Linked DNA regions of Homo sapiens: region 2 is linked to region 1. Evidence: fine-mapped expression QTL. A gene starts in region 1. The other region holds a variant in brackets. All regions are shown on one strand. Distances are between the middles of the regions.

The links.
Region 2: its variant is fine-mapped to the expression of SEPTIN11 in whole blood (TOPMed, PIP 0.92).

Annotation. Positions count from the first base shown.
Region 1 is chr4:76,942,801-76,959,165 of GRCh38, forward strand. It overlaps SEPTIN11 (septin 11), which reads left to right and starts at 6,952. Exons shown (of 10, transcript NM_018243.4): 1 at 6,952-7,130. The coding sequence starts at 7,104. LOC105377294 (a long non-coding RNA gene) reads right to left here and starts at 6,765. Exons shown (of 3, transcript XR_001741739.2): 1 at 6,163-6,765. It also overlaps the pseudogene TXNP6. RefSeq lists an enhancer at 5,737-5,816 and silencers at 6,727-6,906, 6,937-7,246.
Region 2 is chr4:77,019,664-77,032,631 of GRCh38, forward strand. It overlaps SEPTIN11 (septin 11), which reads left to right. Exons shown (of 10, transcript NM_018243.4): 7 at 839-1,007; 8 at 8,966-9,098; 9 at 11,120-11,307. LOC105377291 (a long non-coding RNA gene) reads right to left here and starts at 3,662. Exons shown (of 2, transcript XR_001741734.2): 1 at 2,596-3,662; 2 at 1-1,113. RefSeq lists enhancers at 3,212-3,831, 6,339-6,418. The variant G/A (reference allele first, on the strand shown) is at 4,355.

The DNA.
Region 1 (16,365 bases):
TTTGATCAGAGTAGATAAGGTAACAATCGGAAATAAACATCTAGGCTGGGTGCGGTGGCCCACATCTGTAATCCCAGCATTTTGGGAGGCCGAGGCAGGTAGATCACCTGAGGTCAGGAGTTTGAGACCAGTCTGGCCAACATGGTGAAATCTCATCTCTACTAGAAATACACAAAAATTAGCCGTGCATGGTGGCTTGCACCTGTAGTCCCAGCTATTTGGGAGACCGGGGCAGGAGAATCACTTGAACCCAGGAGGTGGAGTTTACAATGAGCTGAGATCGCACCACTGCACTCCAGCCTGGGTGACAGAGCAAGACTGTCTCAAAAACAAACAAACAAAAAACCATCTATTTTTCTTTAACCAATGACTCTTGGGATATTCCCATTACAGCAGCTTCGCCTATATCCAAATACATCAACTTAAAAATTTTGCATAGCTCATGATGTTTGACAGTGTAGGAACACGAACGCAAGTGTCCTGGCTTCCAAGTCCATGTTTTCTCTGCTGATGAGTAGGAAGGCAGTCTTGCAACGGCTAGTTCGTTATCTTCCTAAAGTGTGGAATGATGACTCATGAAGCATAATCTGCCAAAATTCATGATACCAGCCAACCTACAGCCACTTCTGCTGATTCAGATGGGACTCAATAAAACAGACAGAAGTAAGGTGAAATATAATGCTGATGACTTTTGAAATCTCAGCCTGGAAAGAGAGAATTAGTGGTAAAGCAAATTGAACTTGGGAAAATTAACAAAATGAACATAATCCAATAGGTATCGGTACATGAGGTAGCAAGGAAATTATGACTGAAATATTATAAGTCAAGGAAATTTTATCTCATTCAAAAGGAACAAGTCTACAGTAAGGGAGATGAGGGTGCAGAGTAACCCCTGCATCAGAGAGTTATTCAGCTGGTAGAAATGGACAGTGGTAGAATGGTAGATAGCAAATAGGACGAGACAAAAGGTGAGAAGGTGTAAGTGACATGGCTGTCAGAATATACAAGTGCATATGATTCTCTTCTAATTCAGTGGCAGTATCTAGTATTCAGAGGGACATCCACCACATAAATTTTCTAGGCTCATGAAAAAGAATAATAACTGTCACCACAATGACTGGCCACAGGGAGAAAGGAATTATCTGAGAAGGAGTGATGCCAGAGCCAGGGGAAACTGACCCAGCTCCAGGGCTGGCTGCCAAACAGAGTGGCCAGCAAGCCAAGTCATCTTACTCTAAGGAGCATGTCACTTCACAGGACATACTTATTGCAATCAGATTTTTTAAACAGCGTGCTTTAAAGAGTACCATAGCCTATAAGAATGGAAATGTCCCTGCAGGCTTAGATAATTTTTGCCTTTAAAAAGAATACAAAGACTTTTTTTAAATTTATTTTTTTGTTTTTCAAGTAATACTTGCCACAAGAGGGTGAACAAGAAAGGATGGAAGCTACTGCTTCGTGCTGATGACATAATGCTATCAGATGACAAAGAAAAGGTAAAACTCAAGTTTTAATTTATTTGTCTCCTCTCCCAAAGAGACTAATGTTTTAATGAAAAAAGGTAGAATAAACATGATTTAAAGGCTACTAAAATCCAGCATGGTAAGCAAGCAATCGATTGCTTTAAATGAGTTTCTAGGCCTAAATGAATTATCCATGCAAGAGATTTCATAAGTGATCGTAAAGGTAATTACTCACTTTCCAGAAGCCAGAGAAAAATAAGAAATGATAAAAGATTGAAGAAGGGCAAATATTGTCTTGATTTTCAAAGATAATAAAAAGTGGTAGGGGCAAAGAAGAGTCAGAGTTATTGGTAAATTTAACATTGCCTAACAATTTTCTAGAATGATTTTTAAATGCATTTTTTTAACAAAGAAAAGAAGAGATAATCACTGGAGCCTATGTGAGTTTATAAATGACGGTTTCAATGTTTTTGCCTTCCATGTTTATCAGAATCTCAGTGGATCCTGTATCTTGTAAACTTGCTGAGTTCATTTATTACTTCTAATGATTTTTTAGTGGATTCCTTAGGATTTTCTGTATATTTGTGTTATCTGTGAATAGAGAGTTTTACTTTTTCCTCTCAAATGTAGATGCATTTTACAATGTTTTAATGAACATTTTTACATATTGTGTTGCAGAAGGAGTTCAGGATCAGTCAGTTCAGGACAGTCAGTTAAACCATCCAAAATTAAAGTGGCAATAGCTAACTTATCACCTGTTTTGTGTGTGTGCTTTTGTTTGTTGTTGTTGTTGTTGTTCTGTGACTCAGTCTTGCTCTATTGCCCAGGCTGGAGTGCAGCGGTGCGATCTCGGCTCACTGTAACCTCTGCCTCCCCGGTTCAAGTGATTCTCAAGCTTCAGCCTCCCAAGTAGCTGGGATTACAGGCGCCCACCATCACGCCCGGCTAACTTTTGTATTTTTAGTAGAGATGGGGTTTCACCATGTTGGCCAGGCTGGTCTCGAACTTCTGACCTCAAGTGATCCACCCACCTTGGCCTCCCAAAGTGCTGGGATTACAGCCATGAGACACTGTGCCCAGCCTCCTGTTTTTCTTGTATCCCTTTATAATTAATCATTTTTATGGTAGTCAAGAGTGATCTGGTCTTTGGGTTCTTTGACTGTAAACCACAGAAACAAATCCTAGATAACTTAAGCCAGAAAATAAAAAAATAAATTGTAGACCCCATAAACTGTAACAATTTGCCAAAAAGTAAAAAATAATTTATGGCCTGCATAAACTGTAACAATTTGTATTGTCTTTGTGTCTCTTGATTCAAAATTCAAATGTAACAGCATCTAATTGGCCAAGCTTAGATCACATACTTTCTTAAGAATGTATGTACTGTGGTGATGAAAGGAAGGGTGTGATGGAACGTCTCTTCAGGAGCCTCTTATTGAAAATAAATTAAATTAATTTTTTTGGACGTGAGATCTTGCTATGTTGCCCAGGTTGGAGTACGGTGGCTGTTCACAGGCTCAATCATAACGCACTACAGCCTTAAACTCCTGGCTTTAAGTGATCTTCCTGCCTCAGCCTCTTGAGTAGCTGGGACTACACCATGCTACCACAGCCAGCGAGGAACCTCTTTTTTTGGTTTTGTTTTGAGATGGAGTCTGGCTGTGTCAGCCAGGCTGAAGTGTACTGGTGCGATCTCGGCTCACTGCAACCTCCACCTTGTGAGTTCAAGCTATTCTCCTGCCTCAGCCTCCCGAGTAGTTGGGATTACAGGCATGCACCAGCACATCCCACTAATTTTTGTATTTTTAGTAGAGGTGGGGTTTCGCCATGTTGGCCAGGCTGGTCTCGAACTCTTGACCTCAGGTGATCTGCCCGCCTTGGCCTCCCAAAGTGCTGGGATTACAAGGCATGAACCAGTACGCCTGGCCCAGAACCTCTTTTTTAAGAGGCATTTACTTTTTACCAAGTTGAAACATTCATTGGAAAAGCTCTCCAAATAAATTGGGGTTCAATTAAAAAGGGAATAGACCCTAAATTACTAACAATGCCAAATATTCACTATAGCTGTTTTCTAAAATGCAAATTTTCTTTGCTTAAAGACCTCCTTGACTCTTCATTACCTTAGTATGGCAATAAAAATTATTCATTTCCTAGTCTTTACCCTCATCTCCAACTCAAAATTTATTGAATATACCAGACCATGTGACAGAAGCTAATAGACAAAAAAGCACTCTTACCTTGAGACATTCATAGTCTAGTGACAGAAGCGTGATAGTACGACCACTTCTTGATTGCTTAATATGTCTAAAGCAGAGTTTACTGGCAATAATAGCTGGGGTGGCCATAAGTCCTTGTTTTTCCTATTGTCCTGACATCATTACTATCAGCACAAACCCCCTTTTCCCAGCCTCAAAAGTTTCTCAGTTTGGACAGAAATTATAGGTCATTCTAATAATAATAATACAGTATTTTCTCAGTTAACTCTCAAAACAATTCTGTGAAGGAATGAGATGTTCATTCCTACTGGATAATGTGAGTAGAGTTTTATAAAAAGACTATCTGCAAAGGTATGTGCAAAATGAAGGGAAACCATAGGGGTTTACTCTGGGTCACCCTAGGGAGGGATACTGGCTGCTTCCTTTGGTTGAGGGAGGCAACCAGCCTGCAATGGTGCCATAGTAAGGGAGCCAGGGGGGAATAAATAACCATACTCCTTCCTCTTTGTTCCATCGCTGTTGCTTCCTAGTGCCTTCACTCAACTGGAAGCTAGAGGGAAAGAAAGTCTCTTGAGTTAAGGCTCCAAAGGACAGACAGCAGGTTGGAGAGTGGATCTGGCTAACAGAACACGTCCTCCCCCAGGACTCACTGTTACTACCCTATTTTACAATAGAAAAAAAAAAAATGAGATGAAAGTTTAACTTATTTGATATAACAAAGCTCATAAGTGATCATCTGTAGCTGAAGTGCCAGGTTCTCCCCACTCTGCCACTCTCTCGCTAAGGCTCCAACATTCTAGCAATGCCAGGATACCCACCCTCCCCATAGCATCTTCACATCCCAAATGAGATGTTGGAATATGTAACGTTAAGTTTTGCTGATTAGAATAAACTAACCTACCCACCAAGGTAGGGCATTCACATTCTTACAATCTAAGCAGATGAGTTTACAGCATATACATTCACAAAATAAATAAGTAAAAAAAAAAAATTTGATAAACAAATTCTACAGTCTGTTCTGGTCAAGATAACACAGTTCCTTTGCAACTGCCCTTACATCCGGTTGGTGGTGTGTGGAGCCCTCTTTTCCCAGGCCTTACATGAGGCCTCTGGTCCATGGGCAGTGCTGCTGCTGTCTGATCCTCCTTATGGAGAAAGGACAAAATGTCCATGTACCAGAGCTGCAGAAGAAAGTATTTGTCTTCCCCCTCCCTTTGCACAGCACCCATCTGTGTGTAATCTTATTATTATATATTTTTTGAGACAGGGTCTCACTGCGTCACCCAGACTGGAGTGTAGTGGCGCGATCTCGGCTCACTGCAACCTCCGCCTCCAGAGTTCAAGCGACTCTCCCACCTCAGCCTCTATAGTAGCTGGGACTACAGGCAAGCGCCACCATGCCTGGCTAATTTTTGCATTTTTTTAGAGCCAAGGTTTCACCATGTTGGCCCACCTCAGCCTCCCAAGGTGCTGGGATTACAGGCGTGAGCCACCGCGCCCGGCCCATTTATGTGTAATCTTAATTCAACACTTATTGAGCGCCTACTGTATGTTTGGCATAAAATGGTGGTCCCTAATTTCAAAAGATTTGGAGTCTAGAGGGCAGAAATTGAAGAGGTTGGTGCTCTGCACGTCTGAGTCCGCCCACAGACTGAATAAATAAGCTCTGCGTCGGCGCCCCTCACCTTTCTTTCATGGCCAGACTTTTCTCTGGCGGTTCCACAGCTGTCCTGACAGTGGAATTCAGACGGGGTGACCAAGCCCCTAGCCCACCTACCAGCGAAATCCAGCATCAGTTCCAGGGCAGCCGGACCCGCGCCCGGGGACGACTGACCCTTAGCCCAAGGCTGCGGGGGCGTCGGAGTCCTGAAGCGCAGGCGAGGCAGGGCCAGCGGGACAGGGAGACTCAAGGCCCCAGGGGATCTGGGCGTTTGAAGACTCAGGTCAGACTCTGAGGCGCCCGTCTAAAGAGACCGGTTGTCTTTTCCCTAATTCAGGAGGCCAGGCTGTCCCTTGGGGCGTCGTACCGAGGGCAGATCACAGCCCTTCCCTCCTCACCACACTCCCTGTGCTTCCACCCAGCTGGTTCCCCGCCCTGTCCATCGCTGTCCTCAATCGCTTGTTGTCGTGGGCCCCCCTCTCCGGCCCACGTGGGGCCGCAGGGATCCACAGCTCATCTGACACACCTCGCTGCCCTGCACGCACCGGGACCCCTCCATTCCGCCGGCCCCTCAGACACGCAGTAACACCCCAACATCTGCTGGGAAAAAAATCTTCCCCACGGCGGAGGAGTTCTCAGTCCCACGCGCCCAGAGTCGCACCCACTCGAGCCACCCGCCTGTTGCCGTCGCCACGCCCTCCAGCCGCAGCCCCAGCGCGCATTCCTACGGGTCGCCGGGTCTGTCGCCAGCGATCGAATGAAGTCGGCTGATCCCCCACGTGTGGCTGCTCCAGTGACACCCAGGGGAGGCCTCGGTCCTTACCCCTAGAGCAACCAATGGCTGCCTTAATTCTTCAGCGGGGGCGTTCTTTTTCTTCCTCCCAAGCAGGCGGCCGTTGGGTCGGCCGAAGGCAGCAGCGACTACTACGGCTCTTCCTCTCCAATGGGATCCCCTGTCTGCCCGCGCGCCACAGTGACAGCTTCCAGATGCCTGTCTTTAGTCTCCCTTCTCAAGGGAAGCGGTGGGCGACCGAGGTGCGGCCTGGAGGGCCCCCATGTGGGAAGGGAAGACTTGCGGAAGGGCAATTCTTCCAGTGCGGAGACGAGGAGGCCAGCCCAGCCGCACTTCGGTCGCCCACCGCTCCGCCTGGTGGTCCGCAGCCCCTTCCAGGCCGGCTTCTCCGGGTGGGGCGTGCTAGTCCGGGGCTAACTTTCCGCCACGTGCTGTCCCTGCGACCCGTCTCCCCCGGTCGCCCTTCCTTCTCCCGGCGGCCGCTGGAGCTGCCCGCTTCGTGGAGCCGGTGGCAGGCCCCGGGGCTGGGAGCTCGCGCCCAGGCTTTTACTCAGATTCCAGCACCTGATGGAGCAGGGGGTGGCGGCCAGCGCACAGGCTGTCGGCATCTCATGGCAGCGGAGACGGTCGTTTGGGGACGGAGGGGCGAGCCCCGCGGCCGGGGCCAGTGGAGCTGGGCTCGGAGCCCGCCCACCATCCTCCCGCCCACCACCGCGGCCGGGCGCGCAGGCTCACACCCCTTCCTGGGGAAGCGAATGGTCCCTTCCAGGCGGGTGGCCATGTTGCTCTAATAAAGCGGGAGGGGCGGCGGCGTGGGGGGAGCAGATGCCGCTGGCTGCCAGCGGGACGCCGGCGAGCAGAGCGCAGCCGCGAGGGAGGCGCGAGGGAGGCGAGCCGGAGCCCGAGCACTAGCAGCAGCCGGAGTCGGCGTAAAGCACCCGGGCGCAGCCGGAGCCGGTGCCGCAGCTGCGATGGCCGTGGCCGTGGGGAGACCGTCTGTGAGTGCTGGGGCCTCGCCTGCTGCTCCTCGGGCGCCGGGTGGTCTCTGCTCTGGGGCGGGTGCGGTGAGGACCACAGGGGAGCCGGGCGGGTGCTCGGCCCCGCGGCGGCGGCGACGGCTGTGGGTGTGTGCACGAATTTGGGCGCGCGTCTGGGGTCGGGGTTAGGAGCCCAGGGGCTCAGTTACGTGATGCAACAGTGGATCGCCTCGTCGCGCCCCTCTTCTGGGAATGCGAAAGAAAAAGGACCCCTCTCCTGTTCCCTTTAAAATAATTCTTTGAGGCGCGGCGTGTCTCAGCCGCCTCCCTCTGCCCGCGCACCTCTTCCCTCGTGACAGCCAGAAGGGCGCCGGGTTCGGGGCTTTCCTCCAGTCTCCCCCGCGCCGAGGGGGCGCTCAGGGCATGGGAATTGCGAGCTGAAGTGCTGCGTGTGGCACTGCTGTAGAAGCAGGTCAGAGGGGTGGGATTTCCGTGGTGGCCTCCCCAGCGCATTGTGAGATCCCGGACACCCTCGGGCATCCACCCGGCTGAGCGGGCCCTGCCCAGGATGTGGACAAAGCCCCAGATAACACACACAAAGTTTTCTGGAGGCTCCCTTGTGGTGTGGGTGGAAGGACTGAAATGTTCTGCGGCTGAAAGGCCGGGGGCGGCGGGCTGAGGAGGCTGGGACGCGAGGAAGAGGAAGGGCGGGCGGGTGCGTGAAGAATCGAGTGCCCCACGGCGGGAGGGAGGAGAGTAGGAGGGAGGAGATACCTTTGCCCCGAGTGTGTGGGCCAAGGCGCCGCGCCTACTGGGTTGCAAGACTCGGTCCGCGCCCCGGGGCCGGGCCGGAGGGGAGCGGGACTCCGAGGGTGCGGTTCAGTGGCCGCTCCGCATCCCCAAGTGAAAGGCGGAGGAAGGGGCGGCGGCGGCCTTTCCTTTTTTTTGAAAGGAGCGGAGCTGGGTGGGAAAGGCGGAGTCCTCCTGTTTTCCCTTTCCCCTTTTCATCGTCGATGTTCACAGTCCACTCGCCTTACTGGCTTTGGGGGCGCCTCGGGCGATGTCTTTCCCTGTCTATCACCTCCTCTTCCCTTTTTCTTCTTCCCTTTCCCACAGCTGTGCAGCTGCAGGTGGTGGCTCGGGAGATTTTGTAGTTACAGACGAAAGACTTACTGAGATACTGGAAGCTCGGAAATCCCAGAAATGCAAGGCTGTGCTCTCAGGCTCCCGGCTCTTCCCCCTCTCCCCGCCTAACTCCTCCCCAGATACGCGCGCCTTTTGCACCCTACCCCCTCGGGAGAAGTTCATGGGTCCCTTTGCGGATTCTAATTCGATTTGGTGGTTCGGCTGCCCGCGGTGCTTTCAAAGACGTTTTCTGCAGTCAGAAAACACAGCGGTCATATCGAATCATGACTGTCTTTTAGGCCTTTTCAACTCTACGATTTAATGACATGGCTCTTTTAAGAATTCTGGTCTTCTTTTGCACATAAATTGTGCTCTTGATAATTAGTGGTCACATGTAGGTTATTGTTACTGAGGGAATTTGCATAGTCTCTGGGCTAGTCGTTTTATTTTTGGTGAGAAAATTGAGGTCTATAGAGGTGAAATTTATCTGGTTAAATTACTCCTCCCCCTGCCCCCCATTATACTTATTAGCAGGCATAGATTCAGAGAACTAAAATAACAATATCTGCTTTAGATAAATTGGCAAACGTTTAGGATTGCAAATATTCAGTGGGGGTGTTTGGCTTTTTCAGTAACACGTATTATTGCTGGTGCATTCTTGAGGGATGGAGGAGGTGGAAGAAATAATTAGCTGCACATTTTCTATAAATTAGTTCATATATGTCAGTTAAATAGGAACAGTATGTGGATTTAAGGTTTAGTTGTGTGGCCGTAATCACATCCAACACCAAGTCGGCCAACCATATGTGAGCTTAATCCCACAGAATTCTTATGTTAGACCTCCCTCTTCAGATAATAGAGGAGATTTTTTTTAAGTATACGTGCACAGAGGAAGTGACTTCTTTCTGCGCACTCTGTTGTCACTGGAATTAAAATTAAATTACAATCTAAAGACAGAAGACTTTTCTTTTGGAAACCTAATGTACGAGTGATTAGGAATTGACTATAAAGTTAGAAAGTCTACAGAAAATATGTGATCACATTTCACAGATAATTGTTGAATCCTTTCACTTTGTTCATTGGGCTATTGTCTTAAGTGTGGTCTCTGCAGTTATGGCTTTAAAACAAAGTCAATGAATGGGGAAGACTCTTGAGACACAGCTCCATGGAATCTACACTGCACCTTTAAAGTTAAGAGTTCTCTGGCCCTCCCATTTCTTATCTAGTCTGTGATTTCACCAAAAGAAAGGAAGGGTGCGCTGAGGGAAAAGAACCACTCCGAAGTTGATTTATGTGTGAATGGAATTTCCCTAGGTATTTAATTAGATTTTTTAAAAAGTTATTTAGGACATATATCTCCTTTTGCGATAACTACCTCTCCCCGCCAGACTGAAGAAAAATGCAATCTGAATAACTTACCCTAAATTTTTGATATTCTTGAATGGGAACATCTGAGTGTGATATCCCAGGTAAATATGACATTTTAGTGGGCAAAAATGCTTACATGTCAAATGCACTATTTTCTATCTTATGAAATGGTTATATTCTGTTACAAACCATTCAAACCTCAAGGCTAAATTCAGGTAAGTTTCTTAAGTGGATTTGTTGTTGACTGCAAAACAAAGCTTCAATTTAGTGTGATACTGTTTATTTCAGTTTTAATTTTGATCCCTAGCTTCTCCATTTCCCCACTGATGGTTTTTGGGCTTAGCCCTAAGAAGACCCTGAAGCACATCTGCTGTTTGCCTAGTATAACTGATGATTAGCAAGAACATTTTACTCCCAAGGGATGTGTCTGCATTTTGGATGAATTAGCATTTTTGCGTCCAAATCCCGGGGCAGCTATTATCTTTATTTTAAACAGAACATGGCAATTTACTCTACTTGGGAATCAGGCTTTATGTAGCTGATGGCCTCTCCTAAGCTGTGGTGTTCATCAGTTTAAAAACTCTAGGAGTTGAAAGGAACGTTAGAGGTCATTTGGGTTAGCCTGCTCCCCAGTGCAGAAATATTTCTTACTTTATCCCTAACAAAAAATATGTGTTTAAACTTCACTGGTGGTGGAGATTTCCCTATGATATCCTTCAAGAAATGCACTTAATTGCTGTTTTATCTGTTGAGCTGAAGGAAATGGAAAACCAAGTTTCCATTTGCTCATTTAACACCATTTATTAAGCACCTGCTATGTGTCAGGAACTTGTTCTAGGTGTTGGGGATATAGCAGTGGACAAGTTTTCTTCTTACCAGGAGCTTTATTGTTTGAGAGATTTGGTGTATTAAAGTGACAGACTTCAGTGTAAATGTGTAAATCATTTAGGGAGAAAAGGAATTATATGCCTATTGCTGACTCAGCAAATATGATTCAGGTGAAGGATCATATCTGTCTGGGGATAATTATAGGCAATTCTTAAAGATGAGGGCAGGGAGTGTGGGAAGTGGAGGAGTACTGCCAATAAAATGTTACTTTCCCTTGTTATAAAATTGCCATTTTTGTGACTTGAAAATGTGGCCCCAGATGGATGGCTGTGGTCGGTGTGCCTGGAGAAACATGAATGGAGCCAAGAAAGGTCCAGGGGAGGGCCACCTAAACAATAAAGGGACTGTCATCTCAGGTCAGTTTTCAAAAATTAGAACTTTTTAGTCAGTGATATAAATTATACATACTGAGGCTCTATAAGCAGTTATTAAGGAATGCAAGAAGTTTCTGAGGTACAATAATCTCTCCTTTTAAAATCTTTCGAAAGTTATAGATTAATTTATCTTTTAAATTATCATCTTTAAAAATGATGTGTCTACATTACAGTGAAAAGGAGACCCAAGGAATTGATTAAAAGAACAAAACTGCCCATAACCCACTATCCTGATATAATAGTTCTTAGGTGTTTAGTCTATTTCACCACTTTTTTGAGCAGACATAACCCATCTTGTATAAACTGCCACCTAGAAACCAAACTGTGTGCCTGAATGAGTCCTGTGTGACCATTTGAATAATACTCTTAAAATGAAGGAAGTGGATGCTTAGTGTTTGGGCATGGGCCATCCTATGTCTGCAAAAGGAACAAATGATTGTGGGACTCTGCTGTTTCCTTGATTTGGATGGCCTACTTGATTGATTGCCAGCAGACCAAGTGTTTATATTCTACCCAATGATGATGTCACACTGATCATGATCATCGGATTTAGACTGTGGCGCAGCCCACAGAGTTTTCTGTGCCTGTGTTTCTCTTTATAGGACTCTAAATTTGGTTGGGGATAGACGCTGCTCTTGGATTTTATCATTTTATTGGGATCCATCTTTCATAGTCTTAGCTAGACCTGTCTCAAATGGGGTTAGCAAAGCTGAACCATTATTTAAATGAAACCCAACACATCTAAAGCTTCTATACTTTTTTCCAAGGAGATCTACTTTACAATATAATTGATAACCTCCCCCGCCCCCTTTTTAAAAATCTGGATTGACAGAAAACTCTCAAATAACAATACTTCCCCTGACCCACTCATGCCTGCTGGCAGCCCATCAATGCAGCAGCTGTTGAACATAAAAACAATACTTGGGCTAAGGTAATAGAGACAGACTTCTAAAAGGAATTTGCTGGGCGATCTAAAATGAAATTCACATTGTTCCAGGCTTGACCTGAGATAGAAATCAGGAGTCTGTTCCCTGATATGACAAAGCCAAGGCACCAGAGCCACCTCTTTTTAGGATCGACGCCAATGAGTGTGAGCACATCGCTCAAGCCAAATGGCACAGGAAGTCCAGTTCTGTGGACACATTCTGCCCACCTGCTGAACTGTGACTGGGTAGGATGGAGTGTGAAACATTGAGAGAGGGGTAGGCTGAGGTGGTGAGGTGGGAAAGAGACCATATTCTAAAAGGACCATTTTTCTGACAAGTGGGAGCTTTGTTTGTTCTTGTCTGTGTGTGATTTCTTTTTTATTTATTTATTTATTTTTTTTTGCATTTTTATTGTACAAAAAGGAAATGAAAATATATATAGCATAACATTAAAATTTACCTACTTGTTTTTGATAATAACATTCCTTTGGGAAGAATTGATTTTTTTTCTCTTATAGAAGTTGAGGCACAATAATGTGGATAGGTTAGAGATTGAAAAACAAAATAATCCTCAACACCCTAACACATCAGTACTCATTCTTGCCTTTCCAACCCACCTGTTTTATCAGACATTTCTTGTGTACCTTCTATATGCAGGTGCTGAAATTATGTTGGTGAGTACTTGACTGCAGTCTTTGCTGCTCTCATGAAATCTCTCTATAGGCTGAGTAAGCAATAGGATTTAGCAAGGAAAGGGAGATGGGGAGGTGGTTGTGGAAGTGTTCCAAGCCCAGGAAACAGCATGTGCCAAGCTCTGGAAGTGAGGGAGAGACTCTTAAGAAATCCAATGTAGCAGGAACGTCAGCCTTAGGGTTGGGTAGGGAGAGTGGACAGACAAGAGGCTGAGGAGGTGGGAAGAGACTCAGTTGTGCAGTGCATTCTTTATAGGCATGTATTTACTGTGTAGCTCTTTAAATGCTTTATATTCCATCCACCCTTTGCCCATAACTTAAGATATCTCAGATCCTTGAAATTGGTTGAAGGAAGACAAAGAAAATCTGCAGACTACTAATTCTTCAGGATTCAATAGGAGAGTTGAGAAACGATCAGGGGAGTTGATTCCTTTCATGCCCAAATTGAACCCTTAAAGAATAGAGGAAATGAAGACTGACAGAGGACACAGAGAAGGAGAGTCCAGTGACAACATATGACAACGACAATGCTAGATCTTCCTCTGCCCAGTTTTATGCATTGAGCCTTTCCTCAGGATTCAGAACTAGAAGTTATTATTTTCTTAGACCTAAGCAACTGAGTCCTGAAGAGTGTGGTGGGGCTGGGGGGGAAGATGGTAGGACTCTTTCCACCTTGGACTTCAAGTGGCAATCAGTGTTCTCCAAAAAGGAAATTAAAAACTCATTGGATTTTATGAAAACAGGAGAAGAGTCTGTTAAAAGCCAGGGTTTACTTAAGACTTCATGCTGTTTTAGTTATCTCATCTCTTTGAGTACTGTCTTCATACCAGTATAAATTTTGTGAATCTCATTAAGGTACTCATTAAACTTACTCTGACCTGCTGTTGGAGGGCAAAAGGCTTGACCAAAAACTTCTGTGCACGGGAAGCTTGTTCAGCATCTTGATTTTCAAATTTATTCAATTCAAATTACTGTCAAGACAATTATCTCACCTTATACTCACAAAATACCTGAGAAGTAATATAGAGAAGGAAAATGAGACAGGAAGAAGTTGTCAGTTAATCTGCTACAGCAAATTTGTGGGAGAGCTAGGCTTTGGAACCAAAGGCTTTTAGACCAACATGCATACAGACCTCCCATCTGATTCAGTCAGTTAAGCTAAATTATGTTGCGGTAACAAATTGGCCCCATGTTTTGGTGGCTTACATAGCAAGGGTTTATTTCTCATGCAGCTGTTCCACCCTCGGAGGTCTGCTGCATACTGCATTGCCTCCAGGACCCAGGCTGAGGGAGTATCCTCTATCTGGGCATTGCCAGCCTGGTGGCAGAGGACAAAGAGACATGCTGAACCCTGGCTTCTCAAGAGCTGGCTTCTCAAGCTCTTAGATGGGTCACTTCCATGCAGATTGTATTGGCCAAAGTAAATGGTCATTCCTAAATTCAAAAGAATGAGGATAGAGAATCCTCCTGTAAAGAGTGGCTCTGAAAGACCCTTGGGCTGGGGAAGTAAATCCCCCTCTAGGGAGGGCAGTGAATATTTTGAATAACAGTTGGCTAGATTCCTAGTCAAGGAATCTACTATGAAGCCAAGTCTTTATTTTTAAAATTGTATCCCTGTCTGTAAGGATTTTTCTCCCTCTATTTGGCCTGCTCTGATTCTAGCTGGGCATAGTAGAATGATGTGTGTGTGTGTGTGTGTGTGTGTGTGTGTGAGAGAGAGAGAGACAGAGACAGAGACAGAGAGAGATAAGAGTTAGGCAGCCACAATGAATTGAAGTCAGAGTGAATTCTCCTACTCACTGGTGATGAGCTTCCAGGGACATCACCATCAAGTAAGTCATGGGTGGTAACCTTCTGAAAGGCCTTCTGTGCTGCTCTCTGATGACCTCAGCTGTGGAAGTGTACTCTCTGGGAAATGGTTCTGAGGCCATTAGGACTTCCAGCTGCTTGACAGAATGATTTCCCTTGGGACCTCGGCCCTTTGGACCTTTCCCAGCCATATGTCCCTAAATGCAGATGAATCAGATGGCACCCTTCTTTCCCTTGCTCTGTTTTTCTCTCTACTGAGAGGCCATAGTGTATAGCGTTTGGGTGAAAAATGTGGGCTCTGGAGCCAGGTTGCTCCGGTTCTAGAGTATCGGTTTTACCATTTAACAAGCTTTGTGTCCTTAGGCAAGTTACTTCCCTCATCTGTAAAACACTAACAGTACTTCCCTCAAAGAGTTACAGATTAAGCCAGTTAGTACACACACAGTGCTTACACTGCTGCCTGGAACATTCATCCTCAATAAAAGTTGGTTATCTGAGGAAAATGGTGCTGAAATAGTAATGGCTTTATACTGAAGACTGGGCTCAAACCAGAACTGCCACTCCACTCCACCCCACCCCAGTGGGAACTGAGCAATTGCCCCTTCTCTTGCACACCTGAACCACACAGGCTTCCCATTTTCTAATCATAGCACACCTTAGAGGCACGGATCAAGCATACCCTCCATGAAGCCTCCACCCATGAATCACCAAAATTTTGGCGATTTTTATTTATTTGAATTGCTGGCAACACTTATGTGTCATCCACATAGTGCTCTGGAGTCCCCACCCCACCTTTCCTTAAGTTACCTTTTTTAAAAAAAGTGACTGTCAAATATAATTGTGAACATAAAAACACAAAACAAAAAAACCTTATTACCTACCATAAGCAATATGTTCCACTAGCCCTTGACCACATTCTTGCATTCTTAGTCTAGATAGCCAGACTTAAGGGAAAGGACTATATGTCCTATACCCCCCACCAATAAACATTTGACTCAATAAGTGAAAATTCACCCTTCAGATAAATTGGATAAGACGTATTGTCTAAGACGTGTGCCTACCTGGCTGTTGCTGTGTCAACCCCCGGTAGGTGTAGACCTCGCAAGTCCACTTTCTGCCCCAGGCTTCTCTGCCATCGCCACCTGGGTTCTGCTTAGCTATTCTGACCTTTGTGCACTTCTGGACATCCAAAGGAGTTGCCATCCCAGGGGGCAACCCCCTTGAGATGGTGGATCTACATGGCTCCTCAATTGACCTGGCTCCTTAGAAGTTCCCCTCTGGGCCCCAGCCTCAGCCCTCAGGGGTGATTACTCTACAGTCCCCTTAGGGTGGCCTTCCCTCTTCCCCTGTTTCACTTTTCCCTGTCCCCCATTCTGTTCCCCTGGGTCACTTCCCAGGACTCACATGCATGCAAGTCCCTGTCTCAAGTCCTTGCATTTTGGGGAAACCTAGATGAAAACGCCTTGTTTACTAGTGTGGGGCTCGTCTTTTCCTTATACAAATAAGGGAGTATGAATGTTAATTTTGTAATATACTAAGCTACTTTGGATGTTTTAAAAAATACTCAGAACAAACTGACTTTTTACCAGGTTTTCACTACTATTTGTAAGACGCGGTTTTTGTTGTTGTTGTTGTTAGAATTAATGTTTTATTGTCACCCAGATGGCAATTAGGTTTATAATCTTCATACTTTATGTTTTTTGTAAATTAAAAAAAAATAAGTTTTAAATAGTCAATGGCTGGTTATATTTTCAGAAAACATGATTAGACTAATTCATTATGGTGGCTTCAAGCTTTTCCTTATTGGCCCCAGAAAATTCACCCACCTTTTGTCCCTTCTTAAAAAACTGGAATGTTGGCATGCATTTGACTTCATACTCTAAAGCAACATCCTGACAGTCATCCACATCTACTTCAAGGAATACCATGTTGGAATACTTTTCAGAGAGGGAATGAAAGAAAGACTTGATCATTTTGCAAGGCCCACACCATGTGGCTGAGAAGTCAACTACAAGTTTATTGCCTGCGGTGTCCAAGGCTTCCTGAAAAGCAACCTTGCTCTTGATCGTTTTAC
Region 2 (12,968 bases), 75 kb after region 1:
TGTTATCTTAGTAAATCTGAGACTTAGGAGAATATTTGATCTATATTTGGCACTGTGGGACATGGCCACAGTCTAACCTGAAAGCTTGTCACGTGTGTCACTTTGAATGACAAGGACTCTATGACCTACTCTTATGTTCTGAAGGAGGACATCCAGTGCTATGGATTAAGCAGGATGGCTAAAGAAAGTTCTTCGCTGGTTTAAGATGTATCAGACCTCCTTTTCCTCTGTTTTGAATAAAGGCAATAAAGCTGTGAGAAGAAACAGTACCTTTGAGATCCCTGGGAAAAATACAATTTTTCTTACTCTTACTAATTTCTCTACAATAAGAAAACTCCTTTCTTCCTAGTGTTGTTGATAAAATTAAATGAAGTGGTATGTAAAAGTGGCCCTGCACAGTTATAGACAGCATGGAGTGGTACAAATACATCTGGCTTTGGGCCAGATGTTCTGGCATTTGAATCTAGACCCTGCTACCTCTCTTTGGGAGGTCAGCTTGCTCACCAAGCTCCTGCGTCTGCAAAGCAAGAGTCATGACATCTAGTTGGCAGAGTTATTATGAAGGGTAAAGACAATATTTGTTTTCAAGCTCCTCCCTCTGTGCTCTGTGCTGAGTAGGCACTCAGCAGTCAGCGTTGTCATCAGTATTATGGTCAATGTTGTCAGAAATCTTGTCTTCGTCAGGAATGTAAGGTGAATCCAGTAAAGGATCTTCAGATGGTCTTGAGACCCCAGAGATTTCAGGAGTGATGGTAATAACATCTTGGAAGCATCACTGCAGATATTTCAGTGACATCATTGCTAATCCCACTTCCGCCATTTCCCCCCTCTCTTGTAGTTGAGAATGAAAATCATTGCGATTTTGTGAAACTTCGAGAGATGCTGATCCGCGTGAACATGGAGGACTTGCGAGAGCAGACTCACACCCGCCACTATGAATTGTACCGACGCTGTAAGCTTGAAGAGATGGGGTTCAAGGACACTGACCCTGACAGCAAACCCTTCAGGTATGAAGGCATCTAGCAATCAGGTGTCTCCCAGACAGTGGCGAGAGTGGCATGGTGGTACATCACAGAAATGCTTGCTGGATTGAGATGGTGATGATGGAAGGATCTGGTGGGTGAAGATTAATACATATGTTGTCAGGCATTGTGATAATTGCTTTATTTGCATTATCTCAACTAACTTACCTAGTTGATGTCATTATTATCCACATTTTACAGATGAGGAAACAAAGGCACTGAAAGTGTAAACAAACTGCCCAAGGTCCTCCAAGTAGTAAACAATGGTGTGGTGTTGAGCTCTTGCCATCTGGGTCCTGAGCCCAGGTTTCTGCCAGTTCTCTTGCAGAGGTGCAGAGCCTGGTCGATATATTTACAAAGGTGCGGCTGCTGATTACAGTTTGCCCCATTCATTTTTGCCAAACACCTTTAACTTCCGGAGGCTCTTCCTTTGTCAAGCACTTTTACTATTAGCTTTCAGTGGTTCGGTAAAATTCTAACAACAAAGAATCAGGAGGAAAGGAGAATAGCTTTTAGGAGATCTATGTATTTTCTTATATCACTGACGGGTGGAGACGCAAAATGTGAAGGGGAGAAATGGATGTAGAATTAATATCCTAGCCGAAGCCCAGACCCCGTCAGAATCCAGTGGTAGGGATAGGGCTGGCAAGGCTGGGGTGCTGTTGCCCACACCGTAGTGAGTCATGGGGTGGTTCTGGGTAAAGTTGTGGGGTGAGGCTGCCAGGCCAGGTTCACCACCTCCTGGTCGAGGAGAGGATTGTCCAGATGGTGCCCAAGCAGTTTTCTTTCTTTTTTTTTGTTTGAGACGGAGCCTTGCTCTGTCACCAGGCTGGAGTGCCTCGGCCTCCCAAAGTGCTGGGATTACAGGCGTGAGCCACCGCGCCTGGCCCCCAAGCTGTTTCTTAATGGGGATTTGAATTCAGGTGGTGTGAGGTGTGTCTGGGCTCTGTGCCTTTACAAACTGAGGGCCATAGTTCCTTGGGGAAAAAAAACCTGTCTTTCTCCTCTTTGGCCTACAACACACTCTGATGTCTACAAGCTGGCTGACAATAGAACCGGAGGCAGCCTGTGCACAGCAGATTCTGTCCCCGTGGGTCTGTAGGAGGGAGTTTATTTTCTTGCAATTGCTTTAGAGATAGTTTAGGAATGCCTGGGCTTGTCGCCTGGCACTGTGCTGCTGAGGAGTTCCATGAGCATGTGTGTATGCAGTGAGAACAAATGCAGAACCCAGACAAGGGGCATACCAAGAAGTTAACTTCTAGCCAAGATTGCATCATTCACTTCTGCCCTGACGGCTTGCAAAACTGACCATCTCCAACCATGTGAAAGTCATGTTCTGAGGCGAGGTGTAGGACACCTTTTTGTGTACACAGGTTTAGCTAATTGAACCTTGAAATGCATTTACCAGAAAATAATCCTTACAAAATCAAGTCCACTTTATGGTTACTAAACCTGATGAAATGGTTTCTGTGTGGGAAAGGCCGTCTTCAGTATTACATAAAATATTTGTTTTCATGCAAAGAGATATGGAACAAAAGGAACTGCCATAAAATTGAATTCATTTTCCCCTCACCTTCATTCAAATCCAGACAGTGTTGAAGAGCACTGGGCTAGGAGTCAGGAGTTTGGGTTCAGTTCTTGGTCCTGCTACGCTACAAGTTCTTAACCCATCTGGGCCTGAGTTTCTTCATCTGTGAAATGAGGAGCTGATCCAGATCAGGGAATAATTAGATCCAGTAAAAAAAAATTTTTTTCCATACTGGGTTAGACAGTAAATATTTTAGGTTCTGCAGGCCAAACGGTCTCTGTCACAACTATTCAGTTCTGCCCTTGTCGTCCGAAAGCAGCCATAGACCATACTGTAAATGAATGGGCATGGCTGTGTTCCGGTAAAACTTCATTTACAAAAACAGATGGGGGGCCAGATTTGGTCCTCAGGCTGTAGTTTCCCAACCCCTAGACGAGATCATAACTTGGAGCCTGTGAACTGCCTGCAAAAGTTAGAATGCATGTGACTGCTTCTTGAGTTTGTTAGAGGTCATTTACCTCCCAAAGTGTTTTACTTCTCAAAATGTTCAGAGCCATTTGGCATAGTTGTGTTTCTTTCAACTCAGGAATCTGTGGAATTTGAAGAGTCTATGATGCTATCCTTAGCTATCTACACCACCAGGAAGGGCCCAGTGGCCTAAGTTTGCCACTTAGGTCTTTCCACCATCTTGACTGGGTTCCTTAGGATCCCTGGGAGCCTGGGGATTGTGAGGATTTCCTGCTGCTGCAGACGCACAGCCTGCTAAGTTGTCTGTGTGGCCAGCATTTTAATTAAGGCATTTCCTGCAAGCCCAGAGTAACTGCCCACCAGGAGGAGGTGGAGCTGGGTAGGCCCAGCAGGGCTTCTGCAAGGGACAGCTGCTGGGCAAGCCCACTGCTTTGTTCTCCCTGTTTCAGGGGCTTCAGGATTGGTGAGGGATATCACCGAGGCTGCCTGACGCTTAGAGAGCATGCTTTATCCATGTCTCCCCTCCCCACTTGGATCCATTTCCCCTGGCCTGAGTTTTGCTTTTGATGATGAAAAGGGAAAATGTATACACACACACACACACACACACACACACACACAATATATATATAAAATAATATATATTAATTATATCATATATTACTAATATATGATATAATTATATAATAATATATAATATATACACATATAATATATATACACACACATATATATTACCAAGGCCTTTACTTTTTTCCATATATAAGAAAATTAGAAAAAAGTGGACCTTCTAAAAATAAATACCTTCCAACATCTCGATAACTGGAACCAGGTTTTCCATTTCAACTGGAAACAATTTCTCCTCTTAGACCACTCATTCAAACTCTGATGTCCCTCCTGGTTTAGGGAAGATTACTTGGTACCAAAAGTTGGCTTTGAATCACATGTCTTGGTAAATAGTGATAAGAAATGAATTTGATTTTCCTTTTCTTGGAAACCACTACTTTTAAAAGGGCTCGGCCTTTCCCTTTGAAGAATTTCGGGCACCCTCAGCACTTCCTGTGCACCTGAGCGGGAGGAATGGAGTGAGGTGACTCTGTTTGAAGGATGACAGAGTTAAGGAAAAGCAGAAGCCACAGTTGATTGAAGTGATTTTCCAGAATTTCATCTGCAAAGTCACCATTCCTGGATGTGCTTGGAAGATGGATCTTCCGTGTGAATTTAGGCTGAGCTTGGAGGAGTATAAATCAAGGGCTTAAGGTTTTATTATATTCTCAAAGCACAGGATTTCTGCATGGGTGTGCAGTGAAGTTCATCCTTCCCAGTGAGCACCCTC[G/A]TTCACCTTTTGTCCTCTGGGCCCCACTTGTGTTTACAGTACATGTTTGTAAAACAGAGAGTGACCTCTAACACCAAGTCTAGTAAGAGGCAGTGCCACTGTGTATGTTACACAGTGTGAGGCAAAAGGAGGAGTAGCGCGCGCACAGAAACGCCGTATTCAAGCCTTGGCAGCACACCACGGCAGTAAAGCTAGCGGAGCCCGTCCCTGGGGTGCCTTTAAACCCGCCTGCATTCACACTTGCGTCTTTATTGTCTTGTGGCAGAATATGTATATAACCAGACATTCATCTGCTCTTTCCCAAGCCCATCTTTATCCGCCCCCTGTGCATGCCCGGCTGCTGCCCTGAAGCCTTGAAACTCATGCGTCTACCACCCAGAGCACCCATGCTTCCCTGGACCCAGGCGTCTCCTTCCTCCAGACCCCAGCCCCTTTCTGGCTGGCATTATAGGGTAGAAGAGGAGACGTCACGTGTCTCCCATGAGCCACTCCCTGCTTCCTTTCTCCTGAGAGGCCACAGCGCTTTTCCTAACAGTACCTGCCCAAGCTGCTCCCATCTCACCTCAGAACACCACCGTCTCCTTGCTTCACCCCCGTTCAACTCACACGAAGCACTCAGTTACCACCATTTTCTCAGAGGCCAACGAGGTCCAGGCCCCAGAGACTCACTTGTTTTTAGGAGTGCCTGGGCCTCTGTACACCAGCCATGCAGTGCAGGAGATGGAGTTCTTATCTGAGCAAGGCAGCCTGGTCTCAGTCCTGGCTCTGTTACTTCTTTGTGGTGTGACCTGGTCAAATTACCTGTGTGTCCAAGTTTCCCCATCTATAAAGTGGGAGGTGATAGTAATGGCTACCTTATTGGGTTGTTGTAAGGATTAAATGAATTCACATGTGTATTGCTCCACTCCACAAAAGCTGGTGGAGATGATCATACTCTGGCCTGCCCTCCACTAGATGCTTTTAGATAAGAACAGAGAGAGAATCGTGCTGTGTGAATCACCAGAATGAAGGATGAACTGAAGTGTCTGTGTTCGTTCTCTCTTCCTTTGACTTCAACAAGCAAAACCTGCCTCTCCCAAGGGCTGTTAAGAGGAAATTATAAGATAAAATCCTCAATTTCAAATCAATCTAAAATCTTGTGAAAAAGGTACACATTTCTCACTTAGAAAAGGGTATTAATAACTGTAATTAAAAATTAAGTTTGAAGAACTAAAAGTTGCAAAAGATACCACTAAAGGGATGCATGCAGTGGCTCACACCTGAAATCCCAGCACTCCGGGAGGCTGAGGTAGGAGGATCACCTGAGCTCAGGAATTTAAGACCAGCCTGGGCAACATAGGGAGACTTCATCTCAACAAAAAATTTTAAAAAAAATTAGCTGGGCATGGTGGCACATGCTTGTGTTTGGTCCCAACTACTCGAAAAGCTGAAGTGGGAAGATCGCTTGAGCCCAGGAGTTCGAGCGTATGGTGAGCTATGATCCTGCTCCTGCACTCCAGCCTGGGTGAGACAGTAGGAACCTGTCTCAAAAAAAAAAAAAGATGTAAAATCACTTTGGATATCTTTACTGAATATGAGCCAGTTCCTTCTGAACTGGTCTTCAATGACTGGAAATATTAGTGAGGGCTTGTGGTATCTCTAGTGGACAACTCAACTGGCAGAGGGGCTGGGAATCTGATTCTGTGGATGCTATGGTTCTAAGTTATTTGTAAGTAACTAATTACAGTTATGATTCCTTGGGGTAAGGTTTTATGGCTTCTGTCTTATGTTCCTGATCATTGTTTCCAATGTCAGAGTTCAAAAGCTGGCTCACATCCTAAGACACAATGATATAAGAAGTAGCATTTGTTGAGCCCATTTGCCTGCTCTGGCCCAGGGTGTCAAAACTGCTTCCAGACTCATGTCTGAAGCTAATCTTGCCAATGGCAAAGTTGCTCCTTAGGCTTTCTCTGGGACTAGGCTTTCCAATTTTGGACTGCAGGTTTCACTATAAAAAGCATTTTCCATCATGATCCAGCATACACATTTTGTGTAGTAATGCCTACTCTTAAACTTTTTAACGTACTGGTTAAGACCCACAACTGAGTTGTGATTCATAGTTTCATAAGATGGCTTGTGGTTGGGACTGGATAAGGCAGAGTCATTTAGTGAGTTCTCAGCATTTAGGGTAGCATTACCCAGAGCACATTCTATCAGTGAACTGCCTAAATTTTCCATGATCAGACAAATTTGGAGGATTCTAAGACAATCAAGTTGAATAGATTCTTTTACTGAAGGGCTACTCAGAGCATTTAAGACAAGCAGTAGTTAGCAAACTAGTTATATCAAATCACATGGGAAGCATTTAAAACTAGCAAACTAGTTGCATCAAATGACCTGGGAAGCATTTAAAACTAGACCATTTTGCCTTACCAGACATCCTGAATCAGCCTCTCCAGGACTGAACTTCGGACTCTGTATTTAGGGAAGTGTATGCAACAAAATGTGCCTAGTGCCCCTGCTGTATGGCCAAGGTTGAGATCCACCATGCACTGTGAATCTGCTAAAAGGATATCAGGGGCACCATTCTCCCTTCCGTCTTTTGACGTTGGAGCCCCTCTTTTGGAGATCCTTTCTTGAAATTGGTGGTCTCTGGAATACACTTTCGGTGGTGTTTCTATCAAAGTTTCCATTGTTTGTTAGAAAGAAGAGGGAGATATATTCATTATTCTAAAATCAACAAAAACTGAGTTTTCTGTAAAATTTCATAAGAGGGACGAGTCATCCTCTACCTTTGGCAATTCTGACCTAAATAATAGTGATCAAGAGTTTATTATAAGCTAATATGCAAAATTTCATGAATTATTTTATAGTTCTGTTATGAGTACACTTCTCTATATCTCCATTGCTATAGATCTTAAACTTGAAGTCCAACTATTGCTATTAATATTAGCCAACACTAACATTGGCCAAGCATGTTTTTATCTTATAAGATAATGTGAAAGCGAAATGTACCTCTGGAAACTCAAAACACTTGATTGTTCATAAACAGGTACTATTGATAGTGGCAAGGGCAAGAGAACTTACTTTTAATAAACTAATAACCGTGTTAATTATTGAAGTATAAACCAGCCTGATTAATATGTTTTCTTTTTTCGAGATGGAGTCTTGCTCTGTTGCCCAGGCTGGAGTGCAATGGCATGGTCTCAGCTCACTGCAACCTCCAATTCCTGGGTTCAAGTGATCCTCCTGCCCCAGCCTCCCAAGTAGCTGGGATTACAGGTGCTCATCACCACATCCAGCTAATTTTTGTATTTTTAGTAGAGATGGAGTTTCACCATATTGGCCAGGCTGGTCTCGAACTCTTGACCTCAGGTGATCCTCCTGCCTCGGCCTCCCAAAGTGCTGGGATTACAGGTGTGAACCACCATGCTTGGCCTAATACATTTTCTAATACTAAACTGGTTGTGTGGTTCATTATAGATGTGTGTATCTACATGCACGTATGCTCCTATCACCTGAATTTCCTTTTTCTTCATGTAAATGGACAGATGTAAATGATATGTGGTGGTCTGCATGGTGCCAGGGATCGTGCAGAGTGGCTATCCAGTTTGTAGTCTACACTTTGGATGAATTTAGTCCATGGGAAAGGCAGATATACTGCAGATGGTTAATATACAACAATTGTTGTAGGGAAACTACAAGACAAAGAGAGAAATAGCACTTTATAAAATATCAGCAAATGTTTCTGTGTGTATGTGGGGGTTGCAGTGGGGGTGTATTTTCTTAAGCTGTGTTACCAAAGTGATTTCTCTGTAAATATATTTGTTTTGACTTAGAGATAAAGCTGAGCTGTAGCATTCAATGTAGAATATTGGGCTCTAACTTCCAAGACAGTCAGGAGGAGGATAGAATTGAAAATAAAAATTAAACTTCTCCCTGCTCTGTTTACAACTGGTAATATACTTGAAAAGTAGCAATTTTCTACAGTACCTTTAAAGGTAATGTTGTCTCTTTAGTTTACTTGCTGGGTCTATTTTCCACATTGGGGGCTGGAGGGAGATGAGAGGGGAGGGTACCATTTACTGGGCACTGACTATATGTTCGATGTTTTATTCCCTTCCCCTCATTTCATTCTCAGGGTCATATCCCTAGAAGGTAAGTGTCACTGTATCCACGTCTTAGACCTTGGAGGCTGAGGGAGGCTGTGCTTTTCTAAGAACAGCCGGTTACTTAGTATGGCCCAAATTCCAATCCGGATCTGTGGGACTCCAGTCCCTCTTCATTTCTCCCCCTATAGCAGGCCTTCTCCATCTTCTCAAATTCTATACCACCTCCACCTCCTCAGCCCAGGTTTTCCTTGTATGAATATATGTAAGATAAAACTTGGCTAGTCACAGACACACCTTTAGTGCTGTGTTGTGCTTACTGACTGATTTCTAGTTCTTGATGCACTTGTCTTTCCAACCACAGCATAACTAAAAGCAAAACAGTGTCATTCTACTTATGCTTTGATCTGGCAAGCAGCAGCTTTATCTATGTTTTGAAAGTAGATAGGTAGAAATTATGTGAACTGAAATTTCTTAGTATACAATTTCATGATGCTGTCCTTCGTTTGTGGATTTTCAATAGTCTTCAGGAGACATATGAAGCAAAAAGGAATGAATTCCTGGGAGAACTGCAGAAGAAAGAAGAAGAAATGAGACAAATGTTTGTTATGAGAGTGAAGGAGAAAGAAGCTGAACTTAAGGAGGCAGAGAAAGAGGTAAGCCATCTGTCCTGCTTCAAGGGAAAGATTTGTAAGAGAGAGATTTTCTAAATACATCACGCTTTAGAGGACTTCATGATGGTCCAAGTACTTTCTACATGCATTTTGTCACGAGTGACCTGCCAACCTGGCCAGGAAAATGGGTCAGATATTCTCATCCCTGTCTTACAGATGATAAACAGGTTATAAAAGTTAAAACTATTTTTGCAGTCACATACCTAGTTAGCAGCAAAACCGAGACTAAAACTAGATCTTAGGTCTCCAGATCTGATCACATGGCCTGTGTAGCTCTGTGTTTCTTCAATTTACAAGTCTTAAAACATGAGATTTGGGATTCTGCGACTATTATTATCTTCTTAGTCTATCAGCCAACTCAGCTAGACTTTGGCAGTGTCTGGGGGACAACGATCTGACACAAAGCCTGCACTCCACATCTGCGCCCGTGCTTCTGCCCTCACGGGGCTTGCACTCCCTGCTTCAGCCTTACCTTAGTCCCCTCCCCTGGCCAGATTAACTGCTTCCTAGAAGTTAACATAGATTTATACTATAACATTCATCCCATTGTATTTGAGTGTGTGTGTGTGTGTGTGTATGTGTGCTTGTGTGCATAATGTCTATTTCTGCTGGTCAATAATGAGTATCTGAAGTGTTTGACCAATGTCTCTATATGTTTCTAAGTGAAATCATTTAAATAAATTTCCTCGTTTTCTTGTTTTAATTTATTTTGTCTAAAAACTACTGAAATTTAGAGGCTATTTAAATAGCTAAGCACTCAAGATGGTTTTGCTGCAGAGAAAGTTGAGCCTTATTTGCTGTTGGCTTCAAGAACCAAGGGGATGCTGGGTAAAAAATCTAAAATTGTCTAGAATTCCTTCCTTTCCTTTTCTTTTTCATTTTCTTTCTTCTTCCTTTGCTTTTCTTCTTCCCCTTCCTTCCCTCAAGGGCCAGAAATTTCCCAACACATTATTTAAGTAGCTAATACATAATGCATATATATATATATACACACACACACACATATATATACACACACATATACACACATATATACATACACATATATATGTGTATATATATACAAACACATACATATATGTAGTCATTGTATATATTTCTAAGTAAATGTTTTTTATACATTTCGAAAAAGGACCAGAGGTAAAGAACCACTTTTACCACTAGGGTGAGTTTTTTGTTGGGATCATAATTATTTTTGGCCAGGTGCAGTGGTTCACGCCTGTAATCCCAGCACCTTGGGATGCCAAGGTGGGAGGATCACGAGGTCAGGAGTTCGAGACCAGCCTGGGCAAATGGTGAAACCCCGTCTCTACTAAAGATACAAAAATTAGCTGGGTGTGGTGGCGCATGCCCATAATCCCAGCTACTCGAGAGGCTGAAGCAGGAGAATTGCTTGAACCCAGGAGACAGAGGTTGCAGTGAGCTGAGATTGTGTCACTACTCTCCAGCCTGGGCAACAGAGCGAAGGAATTTTTAGTCCCAAGGAGTTCTAGTGTCACAGGAGTCTGGGACTCTGAGGGATGCTCTTCAGCATCCCAGCTCAGCTCCTCCAGGAAGTCAGCAAAATGGTACTTTACACCTGTATTAAAGCCAGTGCAGCCACATGACACATATTTGTTTGTTTTCTTTTATTTTCTTTTGAGACGGAGTCTCTGTCACCCAGGCTGGAGTGCAGTGGTACGATCTCAGCTCACTGCAACCTCCGCCTCCCAGGTTCAAGCAATTCTCTGCCTCAGCCTCTTGAGTAGCAGGGATTACAGGCACCCGCCACCACGCCTGGCTAATTTTTGTATTTTTAGTAGAGATGGGGTTTCACCATCTTGGCCAGGCTGGTCTTGAACTCCTGACCTCGTGATCCACCCACCTCGGCCTCCCAAAGTGCTGAAATTACAGGCGTGAGCCACCGTGCCTGGCCATGTTTTGTTTTTTGAACAGATCCAAAGAACTTTACATCAAAAGGATTTTCATTCCATTCACCAAGCCTGTTTTCTTTTTCTCTCCAGCTTCACGAGAAGTTTGACCTTCTAAAGCGGACACACCAAGAAGAAAAGAAGAAAGTGGAAGACAAGAAGAAGGAGCTTGAGGAGGAGGTGAACAACTTCCAGAAGAAGAAAGCAGCGGCTCAGTTACTACAGTCCCAGGCCCAGCAATCTGGGGCCCAGCAAACCAAGAAAGACAAGGATAAGAAAAAGTAAGCAGGTGTCACCCCCCTGTATCGGGGACCTCTAACAATTTATTCCTCTTGCATGTCTCTACTTTTCCCATTTACAGACTGGAAACTGGTCCTTTACCAGAAAGATAAAAGCAAGTATTTTCTCTACAGTGCAGGGAAGATGATGAAGGTTTTTAAATTTTTTTAAAAGGTACACAAAGATTAATTTATAAAACTTTACCACAATTGACCAAGCAATCAGGCCTGGAGGAACCTGTTGTCTCCAGTAGCATCTTCCACACCAACACTAGGAGTCTCAAAGAAGACAGGTTGATGTCTCTTCAGCACCCTCTGAAGACAATTCTCATGACTCTTGATAGAGAGCATCCTAAAATCACAATTGTTAAAATTATTTTCCTATTCTGTGTTGTAAGACTTCGTAAGCCAGTCACTGAAATTCTCGTTCCCAAAATGAAACATTTGGAAGAGCTGCTAGTGGCCACTAGTTTCCTCAAAATTCAATATGATGAATTGTTTTATTGTGAAATGGGATCCAAATGCCTATCCAGTTGACACCTCTGCCAACCTCAAGCCAAACCTAAACCCATTCATAAAAGGTTTTTTTTAAATAGGGTCTTAATGTCATGTGCCAAAGGGTCAGATTCTGCTCTTGAGTTGGTCACTTCCTGTGATACTCCAGTAGCAGCTGCCTGAAACCAGTGGGAGATTTAGGCCTCCCTTGACATTCTCCTGTGATTTGAAGCTCTCCTTTGAATCATCATAAAGCCTAGTTTTATGTCAATGCTATCGGTTTTGACAGGAAGCACGATGGTAAGAATACCACTAACGAAAACCTTTGTGGTGTCTCAATGACAAATATGCAGATGCCACCCTCCTTTGTCTAATGTACGGTGCTTTAGGGCAGCTATTTAATATAAAGCAACTCAGAACTTGTTTCAGGAAGTGTTGCTCTTTCGCCTTACATGCCAAGGTTCTAGGGAAAAAGCTGACCATATGTAAAAACATTGATGCTCAAGCACATAAAGAATTACATTCTTTAAACATAGAGTACATAGGATCAAGTCTCTGCACAATAATTGAGATGTGTTATAGGGAAAAGTGAGCACAGTGCTATTGTCCACTTAGTCTTGGTGAATGTGCAGTAGGCTCACCCCTAAGGAATCTCATGTTGCCTGCAGTAAAAATAAAAATGGACTGCTACAATGACATACTGAGAGAGTTTTAAATCATGCTTTACAAACTGACATTCTGAGCTCTGAGACAGCAGAAAATGTATCACCAGAGCAAGGGAGGAGGCAAATGTTCTGAACAATAATTGAAATGGTTGTGATTTTATTTGGAGTTGGCACAGATCCAAGTGACCAAAGGAGTTCAAGGCCCAAAATTTAGTTATGCTGGATTAATTCTGAGAGTAACAAGCACATAGATTATAATCTAAGAAAACCCTTTGTAGCTATGCATGTCGGGAGAGCATCTAACACTAATGGTGATGTTTCCCATGCAGAGACTCAGATTACAGTGACTCTTCCAGTGAAGACAGATGAAAGCCATTGGGCATTGTACCTTTGTTAATCCAAGCTAAACTAACCAAGGATATAGGGGTGTGTATGTGTCTGTGTGTGTGTGTTTGTGTGTGTGTACACATACATCTATAGGTATGAATGAGACAAAAAGCTGCT